Linked DNA regions of Homo sapiens: region 1 is linked to region 2. The links come from fine-mapping of genetic effects on gene expression. Tissue or cell type: thyroid. Region 2 holds a variant in brackets; the other region holds the start of a gene. All regions are shown on one strand. Distances are between the middles of the regions.

Region 1 (4,000 bases), 27 kb after region 2:
GGGTGACAGGTCTCCTGCCACCCGTTCACCCGCTGTAGGACAGACACACAGACAGTGCCCTCTGAATGCCCTGTCATCCACTGTCTTCTGCCCCTCCCCAAACTTCTGGAAGGTGGGTATTTTCCCGGGCAGGTAAGGAAACCAGGTGCAGAGGGAATGTGGCCTGCGGGGGTGGGACTGCTGGCCAGGCCCTGTCCTGACCTGGATGGCTGTCCCCAAATGGGGACCGGGGGGAGTGGGGGTTCTGGCCTCAGCCAGGGAGTCACTAGAAATAAGGACGCTGCTCCAGACGGATGGTCCCCTGTGCTAAGGACAGGAGCAGCCCAGATCCATCTGGAAACCAAAACTAAAACTCAGACCCAAACTCGCGGGGAGCGCCTGCGCCTGGATCACAACGTGAACACAGATGGCCATCCTCAGGATGGGGACCTGCGCGTCACATGTGAGCTGTGGGGACCCTGGCACGCCGCTTCTCACTGCTTCACCTCTGTGCCTCAGTTTCCTCATGTGTAGGTGGAAAGTGCTTCCCACATAGGGTGGTCCTGTGGGTCAGAGATGGCCCCCGAAGAGCCAGCGACCTCAGGGAGGCCCCCCAACAAGGGTTTCTCCCCAGTGTCCAGGTGGAGGGAGGGCCCATCCCACCCTCCAGGTGACTTTGGTCCAGGTGACTTACTTCTTCCAGGAAGCCCCCAAGACACCTCCCTTCCAGCAAGACTGGGGTGGGTGAGGAGTGCCTACCTTCAGCCCATGGCTCCTGCTCTGGACAGTACCTTTCATCTCACCCTGTTCCCCTCTGCTGGCTGTGGGCATCGCACAGCAGGGTCCACGTCTGCCTGGCACACTTGTGGGTCAACATCTTCTAACTCAACACTCCTACTAGTCCCATTTTACGGATGAGGAAACCGAGGCCCCAAGAGCTGCTTAGTTCACAAAGAGCCAGGATGTGAGCCTGAAACCCACACACCTGGGAACTATGCCACGGAGGGGTCAGGACCTGCAGCCAGGCACAGCACCTGGACCCTCTTGCTGGACCCCCAGCCAGGCCCACACGCACCCCCTAGGCCCCCATGTTAGGTGGTGCACAGACTGTTCCCCTCAAGGACACAGAGAAGATTCAGGCCTTGATTCAGGTCAGAAGCAGAGGTCACCAAGACCTGCCATCGCTGCCACTCCCTCAGTCCCCCCACCTGCTCAAATCTCAAAAGGGATACTGTTCCCATTTCACAGACGCAGAAAGAGGCTGAGCGGCCAAGACAAGCGGCCACGGCTCCCTGGTAGGTGGGACGCACCCCTCCCCCTCCCCATCTCCCTTCTCAGGGGAGACAAAGCAGGTCCCTCCCTGCCACCGCCCACCAAGGTCAAGGGTGGGGGAGGGGCGTATGGTTTGGGTTTGTCTTGGGTGTGGGGTTCTTCCTTCTCGGGGCTTTTCTGAAATTTTGGGGCCAAAGCAGGTTTGGGTGTCAGATTCCCCAAAGAGCTCCCGGGAGGGTCGTTCTGTTCCGCCCCCCACCCCATGCTCTTTCAAACTCCCTGGGGCTTCCAGAGTCCTCGGCGCTCAAGTCTGAACCCAGGTTCCGGTTGCATGGAAGTTTTCCTTTAGGAAGAGGAAGCGGCCACTCGGGGTCAAGAGAGGGCAGCGAGCGAGCGGGCGGGGGCAAGCAGGGGGCTGCCTGGTGTGTGTGGGGGGGCGGGTCCAAAGTCGCATCCGGCTCAGCCCGCGAGCCCCGCCTCTCCCGCCCCGGCGGAGCCCCAGGAGGGTCGCGAAGTTGTTGCGGCTGCCGGGGCGGGGCTTGCGGGAAAAGCGAGGGGGAGGAGAAGCGCCCCGGGTTCCCGGCGCCTCCCCCGGGCTAATCCCCCCACCCGGCTCCCCCGAGCCCCGACTCACCTGTCCCCCGGCTCACCTGTCCCCCAGGCTCACCTGCGCCGCGGGGCGGAGGGACGGAGGGGCGGCGCGCTGGCGGTGCAGCTTCCAGCGCCGGGTCCTGTCCTGTCCTGCAGCCGCTTCGCTCCTGCGGCAGCGCGGTCCGGCCCGGGGCGCCTCCTCCGCTTCCTGCGCGGTCTGGCTGGAGGGCGGCGGCTGCGGCCCCGCAGGTGGGCGCTGGGCGGGCGGGGCTGCTCCGGGTCCGAGGGCCCGGGCGGGGAGGGCCGGGGAGGGGGCGGGGCGCGTCCCGGGCACCTGTGGCGGCGCCGCCTGCGTCACAGGTCACAGCCCCACCTGGGCCGGCTGGAGCCCACGTGATCGCCCGGACTGGATCGCGCCTCTCGATTCCCGCCGAGCCGCCGCCGCCCGGTGCCTGCGCCTTCCCTCCCCGCGCCCACGCCCCCTCGAGGCCGGCCCGGGAGTCGCCTGCCAGGCGTGGGGCCAGAGCGGCTCGGCTCCCTCCTGCGTCACTGTCCTTCCAGGCCCCGCTCCACTGCCTCCTCCAGGAAGCCTTCGGGGAAGGAGACCAGCCCTGCGGGGACCGATGTTTGCTGTAGAAAGGCCCGGCCCTCTGGATTCTTGGAAGCCAGGCGGCCAAAGACAGCCAAGAGGGCGCAAAGCACTCTGGCCACCTTTTTGGTGTGGTTGAGTCGCGGTCATCCCCATTTCACAGAGAAGGACCGAGTCCTGGAAAGGAAGGCGCTCGCCCTCGTGCACAAGGCTGAGCCTGGACTCCGAGCCTGGCCTTTCCTTGCTCCGCCTGCTGGGAACCCGTGTGAAAGTGAGGGAGGGCCCCGGGCAGAGGCTGCAGCAGCCCCCCAGCTGGGGGTTCAGGAATCAGGCCACCTGGTGCTGTGGGAGGGGCTGGGGGCTGAGCCAAGCCTCCCAAGCTTGGGCCTGGCCATTCAGGAATGTGACCTGAGGTCCCAGGGCTCAGACCCACTTCTGACCTGCCTCCATCATCCCCTTTTCAGGAAAGGCCTGTTGCCAAAGGCCTCCATGTGAACATCCACACTGGGCTTTGGGTCAGCTTCTACCAGCGTCCCCTCACTGACCCCAGGCCTTGGGGTCGTGGGCCGGGCACCGGTGTGCCAGCCAGAGGCACTGACCACCCTCCTCCCAGGACCTGCCTCCCTGGCCTGGGCGGCCGTGAGATCCCGTTGCGGGTTGAGGAGACACCACAGGCTCTGGGGCTGTCACTTGGCATTTTCTCAGGTGTCATAGGTAGAGGGGCGGCCTGCCCTGCCCCTCCTGCTCTGGTCGCCCCACCCACTAGTCCCCCAATGTCTGCCCTGTGGCTGGGGCTGCCTGGGTGTCAGGTGCCATCTGGGCAGGGCACAGGCTGGCCTCAGGGATGGGTCCCGTGGGCCATCCATCCCCTGGGAGGGAGGGTGGATGAGGGAGGAGCTAAGAGTTGACCCCTGTGGGCTGCAGCCTCCACCTGGAGCCGCCTGTGGGGAGGTTCCACTTCCAGGCAGCTCTTGGGAAAGGCAGGTGGCTGCTGCCCTCCTGAGTCCATGATGGGTACTGCACCGACGAGGCCCGGCCTGCCGGAGGGAGCTGGGGTGTCCCGGAGCCTTGACCCGTGAGGGGACTGAGGTGCGGTGGGGTCACTGAGGCCCAGTGAGGGGACAGAAGCCTTGCCCCAGGCCAGTCAGCAGGACCCAGGTTCCTGATTCCCACTGAGTGCTTTCCTGTAAAACCCTCTTTCAGTAGCTGCCTCCAAGTTACCCCCAACCCCACACCTTCTGTCCAGCCCCTGCTGGGCCCGTTCAGCCACCCTGGGTCTGGCTTCGTCTCCCCATGTCCTGCTGGCTTCCAGAGGCCACTCAGCGTGTGCTTGGGATGGTCCCTTTGCTGGGGATGTCACCTGAGCTGGCGTCAGGACCTCTCTGTGCCTCTGTCACCTCTGCTGTAAATGAGGGCCTGATGCTGGCGCAGGAGATCGCCCTGGCATGAGGCCTAAGGGAGAGGTTGGAAGGAACCAGCTTGGAGACCTAAGGGGCTCGCAAGGAGAGAGAGACTCCGGGGAGGCCTGCCAGTGGGAGGCCTGCCAGTGGGGTCGGCCCGTGGCACTTC
Region 2 (4,499 bases):
TCTGGCTGGACGGAGGGACCGGTGGCCTGTCGAGTCTGATGGCTGTCCCGGCCTAGCTGGGGCGGCCACTCCCGCGTGGCTTCTGTGCTCCTGTGAACCACACCCCCCTTGCTCCCCTGGCCGCAGGAAAGGTTAGGTGGTGCCTGTCTGGACCCAGCAGTGTCCACTCTGTGCCCGCCCAGGGCTGGGCACTGAAGTTTGCCAAGATGAACCCCAGCCCTCGGCCTGGGCTATCCTGCCCAGGGTGGCCTTGGGGACAGGGCTTGGGCGCAAGGCCTCAGCAGCAGCCCCCTCCCACTGCCCTGCATCCACACAGCCCCCACAGCACCCCAGGCCAACAATGGCCTGAAGGATGGGCTGGGACACCAAGCACTGTGGGCACCCTGGCAACCTACTCGGGGCACAGGCCTTGTTGGCTAGACGGGTGTCTTTAGAGCCCTGATAGCCCCCTGCAGTGGGAAGAGGGTCTTTGGGCCTCAGTTTCACCCCCTGCAACAGGAGGGTCTGTGCAGCCAGAGAGCTACCCAGGCTATGTGGCTGCACAGGAGGGCTGAGCAAGGTAAGCCCTGTCTGTCTCCTGGGACCCCTCTCCAGCTGAGCCCGTGTGGCAGAGCCCCCGCAGGAGCCCTATTATCTGACTGTGGGCGGGGAAGTGTCCCTGGACCCCAACACTGGAAGTACGGGACAGGCTGAGGTTCCATGAGGAGAGTGAGCAAGAAGACCCCGGGGAGGGGGTGATCGTCCTGGGGGTCCAGGCTGGCTCTGTCCTGCTGAGGGGGCCATAGCACCTGGGCCAGTGAAGGCGGCACCCCAGGCTGAGCAGGGGCCCTCGGACGGGCGTGAGCTGGCACTGGTGCTGGGGACGGGGCTACACAAGCCTGTGGCCCCCTCTCCTGACGCCCCTCCTGCCCATAGGTCTCGCCCCTGCCTGGGCCCACACCTCACTGGCAGCCCAGGCCTGCGCTTCCTGACTCTGCCGGGAGGGGCTCTCGTCCTGAGCAGGCCTGAACTGGGCCCTCCCCAGGTTGCCCCAGATGCCCCCAACAACAGCCTGGCCACTGCCATAGCAGGACAGCCACCCAGCCTGGGCCCGGACCCCCTCCCTGCAGGCTGAGCATTCTCACTGCCCGCTAAAACGCAGAGGCTGCTGTAGCCACTTGCAGACGGAACTGAGGCGCAGAGGCTGAGTCACCTGCCCCAGGTCACATACGTGAGAGTGAGGTCACAGAGTCAGAGGCCAGGCTTTCCAGATCCGCCTTGCTCCGTGAGCTGAGCATGAACTTGGCAGTGAGAACCGCCCGGAGGCTGCAGGGCAGCTGGGTTTACACGAAACTGCTGCCCCCTGGCTACCCGCCCCCCCGCCCCCCAACACACACGCACACACAGAGACAGGCATGCTAGCACACATGCACACACCACCTGCCAACACACATGCCCTGCCCTGGCTGCCAGTTTGCTCCCACAGGAGCTCCAGGAAAAGCCCAGGGAGTAACCAGTTCACAGGCAGGACAGCGGAGGCTGGAGATGCCACGCTGGGCGTGGAGGAGCTGGCCCCATCTCAGGGGATTCTGCTCCCAGGTGCCTCCTCTTTCCCAGAGCCCTGGCTGTGCCCCGCCCTGCGAGGCGGCCGCTGACCAAAGCCCTGCCCAGGACAGTCCTGCGTGGGCTCCGAGCCTGGACTGGGCCATTGCTGCTGCCCAAGGCCATGGAGGTGACCGGGAGAGGAGCTGGCCCTCCTCGCACTGCACGGCCCTCCAGACCTCGCCTCCTCCCCTAAGCCCTGGTCCAGCAGGCGGGGGCTGGGAGCAGCGTGTTCTTTCAGCCCACCCCACCTCTCATGCACCAGGTCCTGCAGCTGCCCCAAGCCTGGGAGGGGTGGAGGGCAGTCTCCTATCACCATTTCTGGTTGGCATATGGGGTAGATGCACCCCTGACTTTCCTGCAGAAGCCAGGGCCCCAGACCCAGGAGGATCAGGGCAGATTCTCAGGTGTATGCTGGGTGCTCCCTCCCTGAGGACAGCATTACCCAAGCCCACAAAGGCAACGGGCATTGGCGTCGGACACAGGAGGGCTGGTGGGGGCTTCCTGGGACAGAGAGGACCAGTCCTCCTCTTGCTGTGCCACCCCAGGTCAGCCGACTGGCTCAGGGACTGCCTCTTCTGCCTGCAGCTCCCAGGACGAGATGGCTGGGAGGAAAAACTGGGAGGGAGGTGGGGCCTGTCTCCAACCCTGGGGACACTGCAGAGGGATCCCCAAAAGCTCTACTGAATCCCGGAGTCCTCTAAACCACTGGCCAGCCTGGGCCCTGCAAGGCGCAGCTGTGCCGCCCCTGG[C/G]TTCTCAGTACACGATCAGGGGCCGCTGGCCCTGCTCCAGTGCTCCAGCCGGTGGGCAGACTGGCCACACCAGGGGCGAGCTTGGGGCGACCACACATGACACGGCACCCAACACAAGGGGGCCATGCACAGGGGGCCTGGTGCCGGCCCGCGGCATCCTGAGTATGTCCCTGGAAAATGTGTGGCCACGGTCTTTGCCTGGGCTCAGAGTCACTGTGAAAATCCAGGTTCTTAAGAAATAACTTTAATGTATTTAGAAACCTCAAAACCGAAATCTCCCTGCCGGGTCCCCTCCCTCCGGCCGGCCCCTTCTCAGAACGTGGGGCACTCCTGGGCACTCAGGGCCCTTCTTGTCCCACTCAGGGGTAGGAAGGGCATAGGAGGAGACCTCGCATTGCCCCCAATAATCGCTATTGGTGCCTCCTGTGCCCATCAGTCCAGGTGGAGTTGCCCCCTGGGTGCAGTGGGGAGGTGGGGCCCAGCAGCTGAGGGGCCCAGCCAGCCAACGGGAATAGGCTGGGCTCCCTGGGACACGGTGTGGCCCCCTCGAGCTTGCCTGGGGGTGCCTCTCTGGGGACATGTGATCTTCCTTCCGTGAAGTGTCTGGAGCCCGGCACCACAGCCACAGGCTCTTGGGAAGCCCCAGGGAACCATGCTGGGTCCTTGAGACCAGCTCCCCACGCTCTCTAGAGCCAGGCACGACCACTTGCTGATTGGAGACAGGCTGTGCTGCCGCCGGCTGGCCTCGCCAGGGCTACACGTCCGTCTCCACCCGCAGACGCTCCATCCTGCGGACATTGCCCTCCACGGCCACACGGCTGGTGATGAAGCGGGCAAAGTCCTCGGGGAACCATCCCGTCTCTCCGTCCCGGAGCCTCTCGCCATAGAGCCACCCTGAACCCGGATAGGGGTGGGAGGGAGGTGAGGGGAAGGCCGTGGGTCCCCCGGCCCCTCTGAGCTGCTATGCCTGAGCACACCAGGGCCAGGCTTCTCCTAGAACTGACCACCTGCTCCTGCTCAGAGCAGACAGCTGCTGAGGCCTTGCTCATGGTCACCGGGCACCCAGCCCCTGCTCAGGTGCTCGCCACTGAGAAGGGTGCTGGGCTGAGCACACCCCACACAGCGCTGCCCGGCATGAGGAGGAGCCCTGCCTGCCCTCTGCAGGCTCGTGCTGGGCCTGGCTGAGCGGGGATCCCCTGGGAGGGCAGAGACACCTCCTCCTCCCCACGTGGGACACAGTGACCATGAACCTGCTTTTGATTCTGAGGTTTGGGGATGTGGGAGTGCTCCCTTTGAGGAAGCCCTCGAGAGAGGGTGAGCACATGGTCAGCCTGCAGCCCGGCATGCTCTGGACCTGGCCAGGCTGGACGCTGACTCACGCCCGCCTGTCCGTTCCCACCCATCTGTGCCCAACGCCCCTGCACTCACCATCCTCCTGCTGCAGAACCAGGACCACGTCCGCCTGCTGCAGTGTGACCTCGTCTGCTTGCTTCGCGAAGAAGGCCTTGGTGATCTCCACCTGGGGCAGGTCTGCATAGGGCAGTGGCCATCACAGGGCTGTCGGGAGGCATGGGCCAGGCTCCACTCCCCAACGGCCTCCAGCAGACACATCCCCCGGGGCCGGGGCACCCCATCCCCCGACTGCCAGGCCCCAGCACAAGGCCAGGTGCCAGGCTCACTTGGGCTACAGTGGGGGCCAAAGTGCCAGCCACGGCAGAGGGCCAGCCCTGCAGGCCCCAGCCCGCACTCACCTCCTTTGCTGGAGAGGCCCTGCCACTGTCTCTCACTGTGTGTGAGCGCCACGATCCACCGTGCCCGGTCACTCCTGGGGACCAGAGACAGCATGAGCCAGGCCTGGAGACCGATCCTGCCCGTCTGATGTTCCTTGACTTCTGACAGCCACCCATGGGGGCCGTGGCAAGGAGATGGGGGTGGTGGGGGTGGGCAGGAGTGGCTGGGCAGACTGTGCCAGGCAGGCTAACCCCCAAGTCACCCCAGCCCCAGGTCACAGAGTTGGGTAGTGGCCACACACCCAGACCCCAGCCTGCTGGACCTGAGGCCACCCCGTTTCCTGGCACTGGGCCCCAGCTCCCTGCCCCCTCCGTTTGCTGTGACAGACTCAGCCTCAGCATCCTCATCTGGAAACGGCCCAGAGCTGTCCTCAGT

Direction of the effects. Positions count from the first base shown, and alleles are read on the strand shown. Sizes are in standard deviations (SD) of each study's normalised expression.
For the expression in thyroid of the gene that starts at base 2,065 in region 1, allele C in region 2 goes with a higher level than allele G (moderate effect, 0.46 SD a copy in GTEx).

The links.
Region 1: ARHGEF16 starts here. The variant in region 2 is fine-mapped to the expression of ARHGEF16 in thyroid (GTEx, PIP 0.97).

The regions. Positions count from the first base shown.
Region 1 is chr1:3,452,730-3,456,729 of GRCh38, reverse strand. ARHGEF16 (Rho guanine nucleotide exchange factor 16) reads right to left here and starts at 2,065. Exons shown (of 15, transcript NM_014448.4): 1 at 1,919-2,065. RefSeq lists an enhancer at 3,231-3,983.
Region 2 is chr1:3,479,176-3,483,674 of GRCh38, reverse strand. ARHGEF16 (Rho guanine nucleotide exchange factor 16) reads right to left here. Exons shown (of 15, transcript NM_014448.4): 13 at 4,085-4,158; 14 at 3,762-3,863; 15 at 2,562-3,227. The coding sequence ends at 3,088. Among named protein-coding and RNA genes, the nearest start is that of ARHGEF16, 27 kb to the right of the region's middle. RefSeq lists an enhancer at 1-580. The variant C/G (reference allele first, on the strand shown) is at 2,334.